Linked DNA regions of Homo sapiens. The protein of the gene in region 2 interacts with the protein of the main gene of each other region in a pairwise test. Each region holds a gene or a part of one and is shown on either strand. Other genes may lie near its edges.

The links.
Region 1: the proteins of MORF4L1 (region 2) and TNNT2 interact in binary tests that used the Homo sapiens proteins (3 or more experiments, as listed by UniProt).
Region 3: the proteins of MORF4L1 (region 2) and MPHOSPH10 interact in binary tests that used the Homo sapiens proteins (3 or more experiments, as listed by UniProt).
Region 4: the proteins of MORF4L1 (region 2) and RACGAP1 interact in binary tests that used the Homo sapiens proteins (3 or more experiments, as listed by UniProt).

Annotation. Positions count from the first base shown.
Region 1 is NC_000001.11:201,371,181-201,374,680, forward strand, and holds part of TNNT2 (troponin T, cardiac muscle), read right to left. Parts: intron 2,222-3,500; exon of another isoform or gene 2,089-2,221; 5' UTR 2,075-2,088; coding exon 2,034-2,074; exon of another isoform or gene 1,939-2,033; intron 976-1,938; coding exon 965-975; intron 862-964; coding exon 847-861; intron 1-846. UniProt on the Homo sapiens protein: Troponin T is the tropomyosin-binding subunit of troponin, the thin filament regulatory complex which confers calcium-sensitivity to striated muscle actomyosin ATPase activity.
Region 2 is NC_000015.10:78,879,390-78,882,889, reverse strand, and holds part of MORF4L1 (mortality factor 4-like protein 1), read right to left. Parts: intron 2,379-3,500; coding exon 2,311-2,378; intron 1-2,310. UniProt on the Homo sapiens protein: Component of the NuA4 histone acetyltransferase (HAT) complex which is involved in transcriptional activation of select genes principally by acetylation of nucleosomal histones H4 and H2A.
Region 3 is NC_000002.12:71,144,134-71,147,633, reverse strand, and holds part of MPHOSPH10 (U3 small nucleolar ribonucleoprotein protein MPP10), read right to left. Parts: intron 3,207-3,500; coding exon 3,096-3,206; intron 1-3,095. UniProt on the Homo sapiens protein: Component of the 60-80S U3 small nucleolar ribonucleoprotein (U3 snoRNP). Required for the early cleavages during pre-18S ribosomal RNA processing. Part of the small subunit (SSU) processome, first precursor of the small eukaryotic ribosomal subunit.
Region 4 is NC_000012.12:49,988,662-49,991,578, forward strand, and holds the end of RACGAP1 (rac GTPase-activating protein 1), read right to left. Parts: intron 2,132-2,917; coding exon 2,023-2,131; intron 1,683-2,022; coding exon 1,607-1,682; 3' UTR 501-1,606; downstream 1-500.

The DNA of each region.
Region 1 (3,500 bases), on a different chromosome or scaffold from region 2:
ACCTGAGCCACTAAAAGGCAGGGTCCACCTGCCTGGGGTGCAGGGGGAGGACTGGAGTGAAGCCTCTGAGTCATTTCCATGTGCCAAGCTCTCAGGAAGAAGGGAAGGTGAGGGCGTTCTTTCAGGGAGATGTGGGACCCACAGCTGAGGAGGGCGATGGGTTAACCGATCAGCATAGGAGCAGCAAGAGGGGCCTCTGCAAGCTCAGAATCATGACAAATCTTCATGCCGAGATAAGACGTCTCAGATCACTGAGCAATTTCATACTCACAATCGCATTTGAGAAATTACTAAATGGAATCTTTTGGGGCATATCATGGCATTGTGGTTATGGTTTTTAAGTAGTGCTTATCTCTTAGAGATACGGTGTAGCGAAATCTTGAAGCGTGAACTGACATGGTGCCTGGGAACAATTTTGGATGTCTGCTCCAAAATAACTGGTGGAAGGTGGAGTATAGAGGAAAGAAGACTGGCCCTAAGATGATGATTGTTGAAGCTGGTAATGGGTACCTTGGGCAGGGGGGGCCATTATTATTATTATTGCTACCTTTATGTGCATTTAAAATTTCCCATGATAAAAGGGAGAAGAAGCAAAAAAAATTGGGAAAAGTGATCAGTGTGTTTGAAGCAAATGGCAGACAGAAGAGACAGGTTTAAATCGTTTGCCTCAAGACCCGAGCAACCCAGGTAGGACTGATTCCCATTTTAGAAGGCACTGTTGTTGGAGGATCTTGCTCAGCTGAGAGTGAGGAGCAGGGACAGATGAGCTGCTTTCCCAGGGCTCCCAGGATTTCCACATTGCTGAGCCTGCCCCTTTCTGGCTCTCCACCTGCCTGAGGCACATACCTTCAACAGCTGCTTCTGCTCAGAAGAGAAGTCCAGGCAGCAAGAGAAGAGAGAAGAGGTGGGTCAGTTTCGAACCAGGCTGTCTTTGATCCAAATGAGTACACACGTTTACGCTTACCTTCCTGCTCCCTGAGAGCAACAGGAAACACTGTCAGTAGCTCGCACACAAGCACATGCAAACACACACGCCTGCACACACATGCACACACTGGCCTTTCCCCAAAGATAATCCCCCTTTCTTTTCCCTTGTTGCCTAGTGGAGTCCACGCTGCCCTGCCCACCTTGCAATGACACCCACTAGCCTGGCCTGCCGTTCTCATGCAGGGCTGCCTCCTACCATCCTCCGCAAGCCTCCGCCCCAGCCAGCTTGGTCTCACCAGCGTTCTGCTCACTTACTCTTTCCATCTTTGCCCAAGCTGTACCCCTTTCTAGAAAGTCCTGCCCTCTCCCAAATCTCTTATCTTTCCAAATTCTACACAGGTAAGACCTGCCTTCTCCACACAGCCCCCTGACTATTCCAGCCCCTGATCTCCCTCTCCTCAGAACTCCTACACTACCAACAGCCCGCCCTCCACACCAGGCCCCCAGTTGCTAATTTCTTCTCCCAGTTTATGTCTTAACATCTCAACAAGAGTAAGTTCTGTGAGGGCAGTAGCCGTGCCTATACCTCTGTCTCCTCCCTGGTGACCACTATCCTCTGTAGTTATTGGATTGGCTGTGTCCCACCCCCTGGTTTCCCTCTGGGATAGGACTGTGGGCAGGGCACTGTCATGAGAGAGTAGGGATCCAAGACAGGGTGATAACACTGGGTTCTGAGCTGGGGTTTGGGGGGCATAATCAGCTCTGTGCCTCTGGAGAGTCACTGAACCTTCCTCAGTCAGTTTCAGGAGACCCAACATCTCAGCTTCTCTGTTCATGGCCCCTAGCCAAGACTGGCCAAGGACACTGATGACCCTGGAGCTGAACCTCTGTGCTTCCCGAAGTCTCTCGGCCTGTGCTCTGCCTGGGATCTACAACCCAGGGGTACAGGAGTGGAAAGGAAATGGCTATATCTCTCCTCGGGGTGCCCAAAACACACACAGCTACTTCTACCCAGAATCCGAGGGACAGCTGGGAGGCTCCTGGACCAGGTGTCAGGGCAGCGGCGGGAGAGGACCCCACTCAGGCAAGATGCTCCAGATACTCACTCCTCCTCGTACTCTTCCACCACCTCTTCTATGTCAGACATGGTCTCTGCTCTCCCTCCAAAAGGAGAAAAAAGTCAGTGCAGGTACAAAGGGAAGCCTGCCTTCCTCAGAAGAGCTCTGGCCCCCGTTGTACAGAGATCAGCGAGGCCTAGGGTGAATCTAGTTCCACCCCTCATGAGCTGTGTGACCTGCAACAAAAAGCCTGTTTTCTCCCCTGCTGGGGGAGATAGTGACACCCACATGGCAGCAAGGCCACCTGCTGATGTCCACTTCGTTCCTTGCCCCTGAACAGGCAATACTGCCTGGGATGCTGCATTTCCATTTGTGACACTCAAGACAATGTCTGCAGTTTCTCAACCTTTCCATCCACTCTGCCCACCCCCACTCCACAGGATCTGTTCAGCACTGTACAAATCTTCACTGCACAAAGCCTCACTGCAGCCTCAACCTTCTGGGCTCAAGCGATTCTCCCACCTCAGCCTCCTGAGTTGCTGGGACTATAGTTGTGCACCACCATGCCCGACTAATTTTTGTATTTTTAGTAAAGCTGGGATTTTGCCACATTGCCCAGGCTGTTTCGAACTCCCAGGCTCAAGGGATCCTCCTGCCTCAGCCTCTCGAAGTGCTGAGATTACAGGCGTGAGCCACCACACCCATTCCATGTGTGCTGGACAAAAGTGAGACCTGGACAAAAGGTCTTTGGGCACCCCAAGAGACTGGCCTGGACAAATGAGTGAGAACTTGTCTCTAAATAAATAAATCAAAGCACACAGCGGGGATCCTTGTGGTTTGGGATCTTTTCAGTATGTAGACTGTGGTGATGGATACGTGAACCTCCACAGGTTAAAGTTGTTTAGAGTTTCACATACACATGGTGCAATTGTGGGCAAATCTGAATAAGATCATAGATTGATTGTATTGATGTCCAATCTTGGTTTTGATATAGTACTAATTTTGCAAATGTTGCCCTCGGGAGAAACTAGGCACCGTGTGTAAACGCTCGTTATTAAAGACAACTGTGTACTAGTCTTTAATTATGTCAATGAAAATTCCGATTAAAAAATGTTCCCCCAGGGAACTCATTCTGAGATCATCTTCTCACTGCACTGGGAACAGATAATCTAGATTCAGATCCTCTTCCATTAGCTTGCCGAGGGTGTTTAGGCGAGTCTTTTTAACATCTCCAAACCTCAGTCCTTTCTCTGTCTCATGGAGATAAAGTGTACACATCCTGGCTACTCAGGGTCTTTACGAGGCTCCAGTTGACATTAACAAAAGGGGAAGGCATTAGGCAACATCAGGTGTTACAATGAGCATGTAATCACAGGGAGGGGGCAGAGAGCAAGCACTTGAGTGTGAGACTAATCTCGTTTTGAATGCTGGCTCCAGCATGCGTTTGCCTGCGACCTTGGCAAGGTCACTTAACCTCCCCACATCTCAGCTCTCTTTGCTGTGAAATTACTGCTC
Region 2 (3,500 bases):
GGTGTCTACCTATGTTGCCCAGGCTGGCCTCAAACTCCTGGGCTCAACCTCAGCCTCCCTAAGAAGCTAAAACTATAGGCACCACCATACTGGCTCTAAAACAATTCCTTTAAAATGCAGGAGATGGAGGAGATTAAGCCTAAACCATAAATTTGCTTTGTGTTTTTTTTTGATATCCTATATGGTCTTTCCCACTCATAGTATGCATAAAATTAAGATGTTATCTTTCCTGTAGAGAAATGAAATTCTCCTAACACTCTCAACTTTATCTGGATATTGTCAGAATATCAACACACAAAATATAAGTCTAATAAAGATTGAAATGCAGTTTTAGCAAGGCATTGTTTAGTAATAAAAAGCTATGAGATACACTAGGAGTCACTATTTTCCTGTTTCCTAGATATTAGAATCCATTTAGTACTAAAAGCACAGTTTACTTCTACCAAGACAGTTTTCTCCATTATTTTCCCAACTTCTCAATATTTAAAATACAAGTCCATGAGGTTGGAGTTACCTATCATTATTAAATATTACCTATCATTATTAGAAATACATGTTGTTGTTTCTTTTTAAAGGAGTCCAGATCTTGCTCTGTCACTCAGGCTAGAGTGCAGTGGCACATCATAGCTCACTGCAGCCCCAAACTCCTGGGCTCAAGTAATCCTCCTGCCTCAGCCTTCCAAGTAGCTACAGGTGCACACCACCACACCTCACTGATTAGAAATACTTTAATTATCATTAACTGGGAAAAAAATACCCACAAGTTGTCAGGATGCACTTCTATGCATTTCAGATTTCTACCTTTCCACATTTATATTAATGGAAGTAAAAGGTCTGATAAATTCTCAGCTGAAAACATCTGATACGTGAAAACAACTTCCTAACAAAGAAATAAAATTAACTGGGTTGGTCACCTGGATAGAGTACTAGATGAAACAAGACCAAAGTCACAGGGCCAGTGAACTTCACAGGAAAAATAAACTCCTTCCATAGTAACAGAATACTCATCAAATCAGATGGCACTGATCCCATAGTAAACCAGGTAAAAGAGCCTGAGTCAGGTGACACAAAGCCTTAAGTTACTAGAGGACAATTCCACAAGAACAATACTAAATAGCAATGGCAGTGCTATCTTTGAAGGACAAGGCATCATTAATAAAATGTAAAACCTCCCATAGTAAAAATTACAAGTCTTTTCATTACAATCACCAAATAGGAGACTTGGGTAAATTTTTAGACAGGGTTATTTGTGAGGCCCAAGGAGAAAAGTCCCATCACTGAAAAACAGCTCCACTGGATGGACATTCTAGAATGTGTTCAATCTATACCCACTGTCCATTCCTAGAACAAGATCAATAACATCGGTACTTTACATACACACACACACACACAAAAAGGCCGGGCAGTGGCTCACACCTGTAATCCCAGCACTTTGGGAGGCCGAGGCGGGTGGATCACCTGAGGTCAAGAGTTCAAGACAGCCTGGCCAATGTGGTGAAACTCCGTCTCTACTAAAAATACAAAAAATTAGCTGGGCATGGTGACAGGTGCCTGTAATCCCAGCTACTCAGGAGGCTGAGGCAGGAGAATCACCTGAACCCCTGAGGCGGAGGTTGCAGTGAGCCGAGCTCACACCATTGCACACTCCAGCCTGGGCAACGAAAGCAAAACTCCATCTCTCAAAAAAAAAAAAAAAAAAAGGCTTAACTCTTAGGGGTGAGAAATTAAGACTCTATAATTGAATGTTTCTGTGTTAAACCATGCTAAAAAGTGAGTCACATGAAGTCATTTTCGGTCAACACTAAATAATGTTTCCAAAGTTCAGAATATGGACTGGTAAATTCTGTCTTTATTTCCCAATCAAGCAACCTTTATCCTTTCCCCTTTTCTAGACAGAAAACCCAACTAGTTTTTTTTAGCACAGCTGCTTGAAATAACATATATAATCAACATGTTTGTGGTAAGGCCAAATAATTCAGGCCATCCTAAAAATGTACCAAAACCAGGAAAAAAAAAAAAACAGAAAAATGTGATTGCCACATTCAACCAGAATAATTGATTGACTATATGACTAATAGATATTACACTAGAACATAACAAATATTCCCAAGATCCAAGTATATTTAAATTAAAATGGCTCAGTACCCTAATTTCTAATAGTTTTGTCATACTACAAATGATTCACCTTTGCTTCAATATGTACTATATTACATTAAAACTGCAGAATTGAAAAGCATATGCTTGCTAAGCCAGTCAGTGACACAAGCTATCTTGTTAATTACAAATAGAATTGTAAGATCTAATACTCACTTTTTATTCCAACCACTGTAATGTATGAAGTATTTCACTTGTTTGTCCTTTATGGCAACCTTTACACACTGAAATTCAAAAAAAAAATAATAATTCACTTAGAAATTTTTTAAAGACACTACCTTTTCAAATCATCCTTCAAAGACACTCTACACAAGCTTTATGGTGGCCTAAACAGAATGACTAAGAACACTAAGCTTGTAGAATACTCAAGTTACAAAACTGAAGATTAGTCACAAAAGGTCCAACAAAGCTGAGAACCACAAGCATAAAAGGTCACCTTAAATCTTTAATCAATGGATTACAAAAGCTATCCAAGGACAGCTAATGAAAGCTATGCTTGTGTCTTCTCAGTCTAATCAGCCAGGAGCTATATTTATTTCAAAAGCAAATTCCTCTAAAGCAAAGTCTTTAAACTATATTATAAAAAAACTTCATTAGCTTATGAAAGGCAGTAAATGGACCTGTTTCTGAAAAGTTAGTTTAAACAACTTGTAAAGCAATGAATTAAAAATATTTCACTTTTCTTAAAAGCAGCCAGACAAAAGGAATTACTAGAGGCAAGTCATTAACTATGACAAGTGATGACTATCTGGTTTTGGATTTAAAAGTCTTTAAGAGAAAACCAAAATAACCACAACAGTTTAATTTGTTTCAATAGCTTCAATTCGAAAATTGTTCACCAGAGTGTCAGGTGCCAGGAGAAAAATCAGCCAGTTTAGTAGAGTTTGCCAAACGTTGATACAACAATAACAACATTCAGGGATAAAAACGATTAACAGGACATAATTTTTTTTTTTTTTTTTGGTAGAGACAGTCTTGCTATCTTGCCCAGACTGATCTCAAACTCCTGACCTCAAGTGATCCTCCTGCTTTGGCTCCCCAAAGCCCTGGGATTACAGGCTTGTACGTCACAGCCCCTGGCCATGAGTCGTAATTTAGCACTTACAAACATTATATCATTAAGATGTATGTACGTATACATATACTTAGAAATTCCTGACCATCTCCATACATCCAAATTCAGTCATTTTAGGATTTCTTTTTTAAGAGACAGTCTCCCAAGGGGCAATGGCTCACACCTCTAATCCCAACACTTTGGGAGGCCGAGGCAGGTGGATCACGAGGTCAGGAGTTCAAGACCAGCCTGGTCAACATGGTGAAACCCCGTCTCTACTAAAACTACAAAA
Region 3 (3,500 bases), on a different chromosome or scaffold from region 2:
TGGCGCTATCTCGGCTCACTGCAAGCTCCCTCTTAAGGGTTCATGCCATTCTCCTGCCTCAGCCTCCCGAGTAGCTGGGACTACAGGCGCCTGCCATCACACCTGGCTAATTTTTTGTATTTTTAGTAGAGATGGGGTTTCACCGTGTTAGCCAGGATGATCTGGATCTCCTGACCTCGTGATCTGCCCGCCTCGGCCTCCCAAAGTGCTGGGATTACAGGCATGAGCCACCACACCCGGCGTTTTCTACATTTTTACATAACATTTCTGCCATCTTCAAACATCAGTTCTTCCATCTCTTCCTCAACTATTCCTATCTACCATGCATGTGGACATTCTCAAACAACCATTAATGCTGTTTGGTAAGATTTACTGATCTCTATTAATATTATCTTGACTTTGCTTACAGAAAAAAAAGCTAGCTCTAAGAAGTATATGGAAAAAGATGCAAGGAAAGATGCTTACGGGAACAAGAGTCAAAAATAGACTACTGATAAATTTCCTCATCTTTCAACTACTGAAAACATCTCTATAAACAAATATGAAATAATACTGAAAAACTCAAACAGTATCAAAATAAATCAAAGCTATCAATTACAAAAAGGGGGAAAGAATGCAATGTTAATTGAAGGACCATCTGCTTCAGATTTTTGTCTTTTTTTGAAAGAACTACCCAAGAAATCCAGTAATTAAAACAGGTTTCATACTGATCCTGCAACTAAAATGGTGACTATATATTGCAGTTACATTAGCATTCTTTCTTCCTTATCACCATCCTGTCCATGGAGTTATTTGCTCAAGGAAACTTCACAAAGAACAAAAACAAGCCATAAACACAATAGGATCCTGGATTCTAAGTGAGAGAAAAATGAGAGTGTGAAAGAAATCATTTCTTCCACTGGACCACTGTTCAACTGTTATTAAAAACACTGTGTTCCATTCTAGTGTTTAAAGAGAAATATGGAGAAAAAGAAGACAGTCCAAAAAGCCACAAAATGCTGGGCACGGTAACTCACGCCTGTAATCCCAGCACTTTGGGAGGCCAAGGTGGGCAGATCATTTGAGGTCAGGAGTTTGAGACCAGCCTGGCTAACATGGTGAAACCCCGTCTCTACTAAAAATACAAAAAAATTAGCCAGCCGTGGTGGTGCATGCCTGTAGTCCCAGCTACTCGGGAGGCCGAGGCAGGAGAATCGCTTAAACTTGGGAGGCAGAGGTTGCAGTGAGCCAAGATCATGCCACTGCACTCCAGCCTGGGCAACACAGTGAGATTCTGTCTCAAAAAAAAAAAAAAAAAAAGCCACAAAAAATAATGGCTGTGATTAGTAAATGGAGTCTACAGAGATGGTGTGAAATACCAACCTGAACATGAAAAAAGTAATATCAAGGGGAACCTACACTAGCAATTCTACATTTCTTAAGGGAAAAAAGAAAGGCTTTTCATTTGGGCACATAGACACATATACATTCACTTCTCCTTCACTTCCCAGTATTCCAAGGAATGTCTAAAGGCTTCCGTGTGTTAGATCCTAGCTAGTGCGAGGAACAGAGTGGAACAGTAGATGCATTTCGTGCTGCCTGAAGACAAGTAGAGAGCAATGAACAACTAGCGAATGACTGCAAATGTGCAATGCAGCTATGAGGAAAAGGAGCCAAGTGGTGAGACATGCAGCAAGGTGGGAAGGGGAGTCTACCCTAGGTAAGGAGCCAAGGAACATCTGCAAGGAGGGAAAGGCGTCTAGCCTGGGCAATAAGGAGCCAGCCATGCCAAAAAGGAAGTGCAGCCTACTGGGCCAGGGGAAGAGCACAGTGAGAAAGCGCAAGGGACTTGGCCTGCTCAAGGAATCAGAAGATCAGTGGGGGTGGGGGTAGCAAGCCAAGGGAGACCAAAGGGGTGGGAAGAGCCAGATCACACAGGTAAGGCCCAGAAAGGCCCACGTCCTTCATCTCAGTAAGACCTGCTGGACAAGAGGAGTTGAGAAATTCCACTCATCTCTTCACCTGTTTATTTTACACAGCCCATAGCAGGGACTTTGGGAATCTAAAGATGGTTCCTGCCATCAAGAACTTACTTGCATGTAATTACAACTGGATTAAAAGCATACATATATACCAAAAAAAAAACCAAACAAACAAAAAAAAACAACCAGGTTAAAAAAGCTTACTGTCTGAGAAGATAAAATATTTGCATGGGAATCACCTAGCCATCAACTAATAATAAAGGATCTTGGAGATTAGCTCTTCGGTACAAATGAAACGTAAAGCGATTGCCTGCATCATAAAGCTAGTTAGGAGCAGAACTCAGCTCAGGTTCTGACTTCTAGACTAGTCTTTAATTCATGACATTCCATTTCAGACAACAACACAGGCACCAAAGGGCAACAGGTGAACAAGTACCAAAGGATGGTACAAGCATGTTTTATGGGTTCACAGAAGCTGGTAAGCAGGAGATGAGGCTCCAAGGAATAGACAGGTAGAGCCAAGTCTGGGTGACAGACAGACAGGGGAGGAGCATTTGAGAGGGCTGGGCCTGGTGAAGGAACATCATGCGGAGACAGCTGGGCCCAGAGTTAGTTCTCACTCTCCCACCTCCTAAACCTTGGTTTTCTCCCCTGTGAAATGGAAACTATAGTACCTGCCTCAGTGTTGTGTGCATTAAGTGTTAGTGTATGTAAAGAACCTAATATGACACATAGCAGATACTCCATAAATGCTGGTATAGATATCCATACATCTCCAAACCCATTATACAATGAAAATGCAACAGAAGACTGAGAGGGTAGGGAAAGGAGGAGTCCCTGTGGCTACGGCTGAGGATCTTTTAAAGTGTGAGGTAAGTTAAAACAGTAAGAGGCAGTACTAGCATGATGCCTGACCATGCCCAGCCCCAGCTGGCAGGGGCTCACTGAAGATCTGGGTAGAGCCAGAACTGTCATGGGACCAGAAGTGAGCTTTCCTCATGGAGACCCTGCCTGGAATTTACAGCAAACTACAAGTTTGTATCCTGAAACAAAATAAAGAGCTAGTCTCACAAAGGATCAAAGCTATGAAGGTCACCCTGCTCTAGCTACACACTGAACTGTTAACACACTTACCGGTTTAGGGATAAAGTGGAAGTTTGAGAGGGCATCCAATTTTAAGAAGAGGGAATCCATCATCTTCTGAATTTCTACATGTTCTGGATTTTCTTCTTCTGCTGTTTTTTGCTTAGGAAATAAGTTCAACAATGTCAAACTAAGCGACTTGATATATATCACAGGACAAAACACTAAAGGTCAATGAGAGTATTTCTAACTTCTCATCACTAAAGCTTCAGCTACAAAGAAACATTCCAAAAGCAAAATTAAAAGCAGCAGTACCATGAGGGTTCCAGCACCTACCAGAGATGTGATGTGCATTTTAGGAGCTACAGTAACCATTACCTCTAATACTCAGAACTTAAAAATTTAATTACCTTGGTATTTACTTCTGTCAAAAACTAAGCTATTCCTAAGATGGCT
Region 4 (2,917 bases), on a different chromosome or scaffold from region 2:
GGCATAGGACAACTCTACAACTCCAGTTTGGACAAAGAGAGACTGGATGAGAAATGAAGAAACAAACTCCCGGTGGTGGTAAGCCTGGGGTGGGTCCAGAGAGTGGGAAATGGGGATGAACAACAGAGTCAAGACACTTTGAAGGAAGTAATTTTTTCTTTTTTTTTTTTTGTGACAGGGTCTCACACTCTGTCACCCAGGCTGGAGTGCAGTGGCACGATCTCAGCTCACTGCAACCTCTGCCTCCCAGGCTCAATTTTCCCACATTAGCTTCCCAAGTAGCTGGGACCACAGGTGTGCACCACCACGCCCAGTTAATTTTGTATTTTTTGTAGAGACAGAGTTTGGCCATATCTCAAACTCTTGACCTCAGGTGATCCACCTATCTTGGCCTCCCAAAGTGCTGGGATTAGAGGCATAAGCCACCAAGCCCAGCCCCAGAAATGATTTTCTAAAAGGCATTGAAAATTACCTTGCAAGACAAGAAAACCAGCCTCATGTTCATTTTGAAAAAGCTATTTACTTTTTTTCCAAATATTATCCCAAATAGGTGTTTTACAGATAAGGGTCAATACGAAGTCAAACATTCTACAGAAGAAAATCGTTTTTACAGACATTAAGAATAATTTTAACAGAAGAAAAAGCTCACATCTATCTAGATGTGGCTATGTTCCATGGGAAAAATTTCAGCATCCAAAGTGCAAAGAAAAAATGACTGTAGCTTTTCTTACCACAAAATATTGACAATCTTCCCTTATAGCCTACTCTTTATTGTTAGTTGGGATGCCAAAGGATGATATATTGACCTTTAGAAGTTGGGCTCCACTGGACAAGGTTGGGGGTATGGGGGCCAAGCATCAGAATGAATTCAATTTTAAAAGAAAAACTGGCTTTGACCCCAAATGAACCCAAAGTTCAGCCAGCAGCACATCAGAGATAAATACGAGTTGTACTTTCACATTTACAAGGTTGTGCCACTCAACACTATTAAAGACCTAATCATCCAAATCAAAGCTACGCATACTCCCATCACTAGTTCTGTCCTCAATGCATCCCATTTTTATGAAAGCTCCATATTATAGCTCAGTTCATAATGGGGAATGAGAACTTCTGGTTCTTAGAAGGAGGCATCCTAAATCCTCTGGTCTAATCCTTTCTTTGCCCTGCCCTCCCACTTCCCACCCTGAGACAAGCTAATCTTATCAGATAGGTAGGGTTTCTGTCATTGTCTCACGGAAATCAGTTCTAAATGAAACTAGAGAAAGATCATTCTATGAGCAGCATTTGGCTTTAAGCCAAAGGAACAATAACCCCCTTCCCCAAAAAGAATCACAACCAATTCCATACTAACCCTTCTACCCCTGGAAAGATGTCTCATCTAAAAGCTCCCAACAATGACCAGCACAAAGTGCTGATATTATGTGACTTGAGGAGAAGGAAGGGGAGATATATATAGTTTTAATAAAACCCTCATGCACAATTAAACTTGAGTAAAAGCCTGGAGAATGCTAAAAGTAGTAATGAGTACAGGAGGCTGCAGAGCAGAGTACAGATGTGTCCTTTCTTATAGTCAGTCAATGCTGGGAAGTAACAGGCAGATGTGACTTCACTTGAGCATTGGAGAAGCAAAAAAGTTGCCTTGTCGTCCTAGGTTAGTGGCAGACTTGCTTTTGCTCCCAAATCTACAATAAAAAGAGAATGAACTGGAAAAATATTCTATAAAAAATGGTTGAATAAACAACTATAATATTACTTGATATAACCCATTATAAGTAGGAAACCCTAGACAACTATTTTGCAATAGTTGCTTAAGTATTCTTAGTCACCAACAACGAGAGAGGGGAAATAGTAAAGACTTTCAGAACCTTTTTAAAGAAGGAATCCTTATAGCCCCACGTTCCCTTTTAAAGTCTAGTTGCTAGCTAAAATCGAATGCAATTTTTCTTTCAATAAGCTTCAATATAATAAGAAGTCTAAGAAAGTAGTTGTTTTTTATTTCCTAGGAAGGCCAATTCTGCATACCTAGGAGTGTTCTTGGTGAGGGTGGAACGGACTCTCTGTGACAGGGAACTAGATGAAGGAGTCTTGAGAAGCTGATGTTCAGGAGTGGTCACAGGTCCCAGTAAACTCACTTCAAAGTTCAGACATATTTTTAAGAGAGGTGGGAAAAAAGAAGGCATCTTTTTAGATGGCTAGTTTTAAGCTGATTACCCTCTGAAGCACTTAAGAGCTAAGGTTAGACATCTAGCAAAGTCCCAGAGATCATTTTTGTCATCATTCTGTAACACACTAGTGTATCTTTTGAACTCAATGAATAGCTGACACGTCCTGATTTAGGCCATTCTCTAACTCCACACTTCACAAATCTAACATCTAAACATCTGACTTTTAGCTATACTAGAAGAAGCAATATGCTCCCTTAGAAGGAACTTGCAATAATGAAAGAATGGGTCTCCAATGCCAGTGAGACTGGAGTGAAACCAGCCTATTCATATAAAATTGTTGGTTAGCAATATAAATTGGCAAAAGCCTATAAGAAATTTAATAAATCAAGTTGGTAAAACATACCAAGACACATAAAAATGTTCAAGCCATTTAATTCAGTGATCCCACTCTTAGGAATTTATCATTAAGAGAAATGCTATATTGACTATAGCATTACTTGTAATTATGAAAAATTGAAAAATAATGTTAATACCTACTAGAACATTTAAGTAAATGATAAATAAGATTATACATGAGAAAAAGTTCTCACAACATGCTAAGTGAAATAAGAATGAATTATATTTAAACTATTATATATATATATATATATATATTTTTTTTTTTTTTTTTTTTTTTTTTTTAGACAGAGTCTCACTCTGTCACCAGGCTGGAGTGCAGTGGCGGGATCTCAGCTCACTGCAAATTCCGCCTC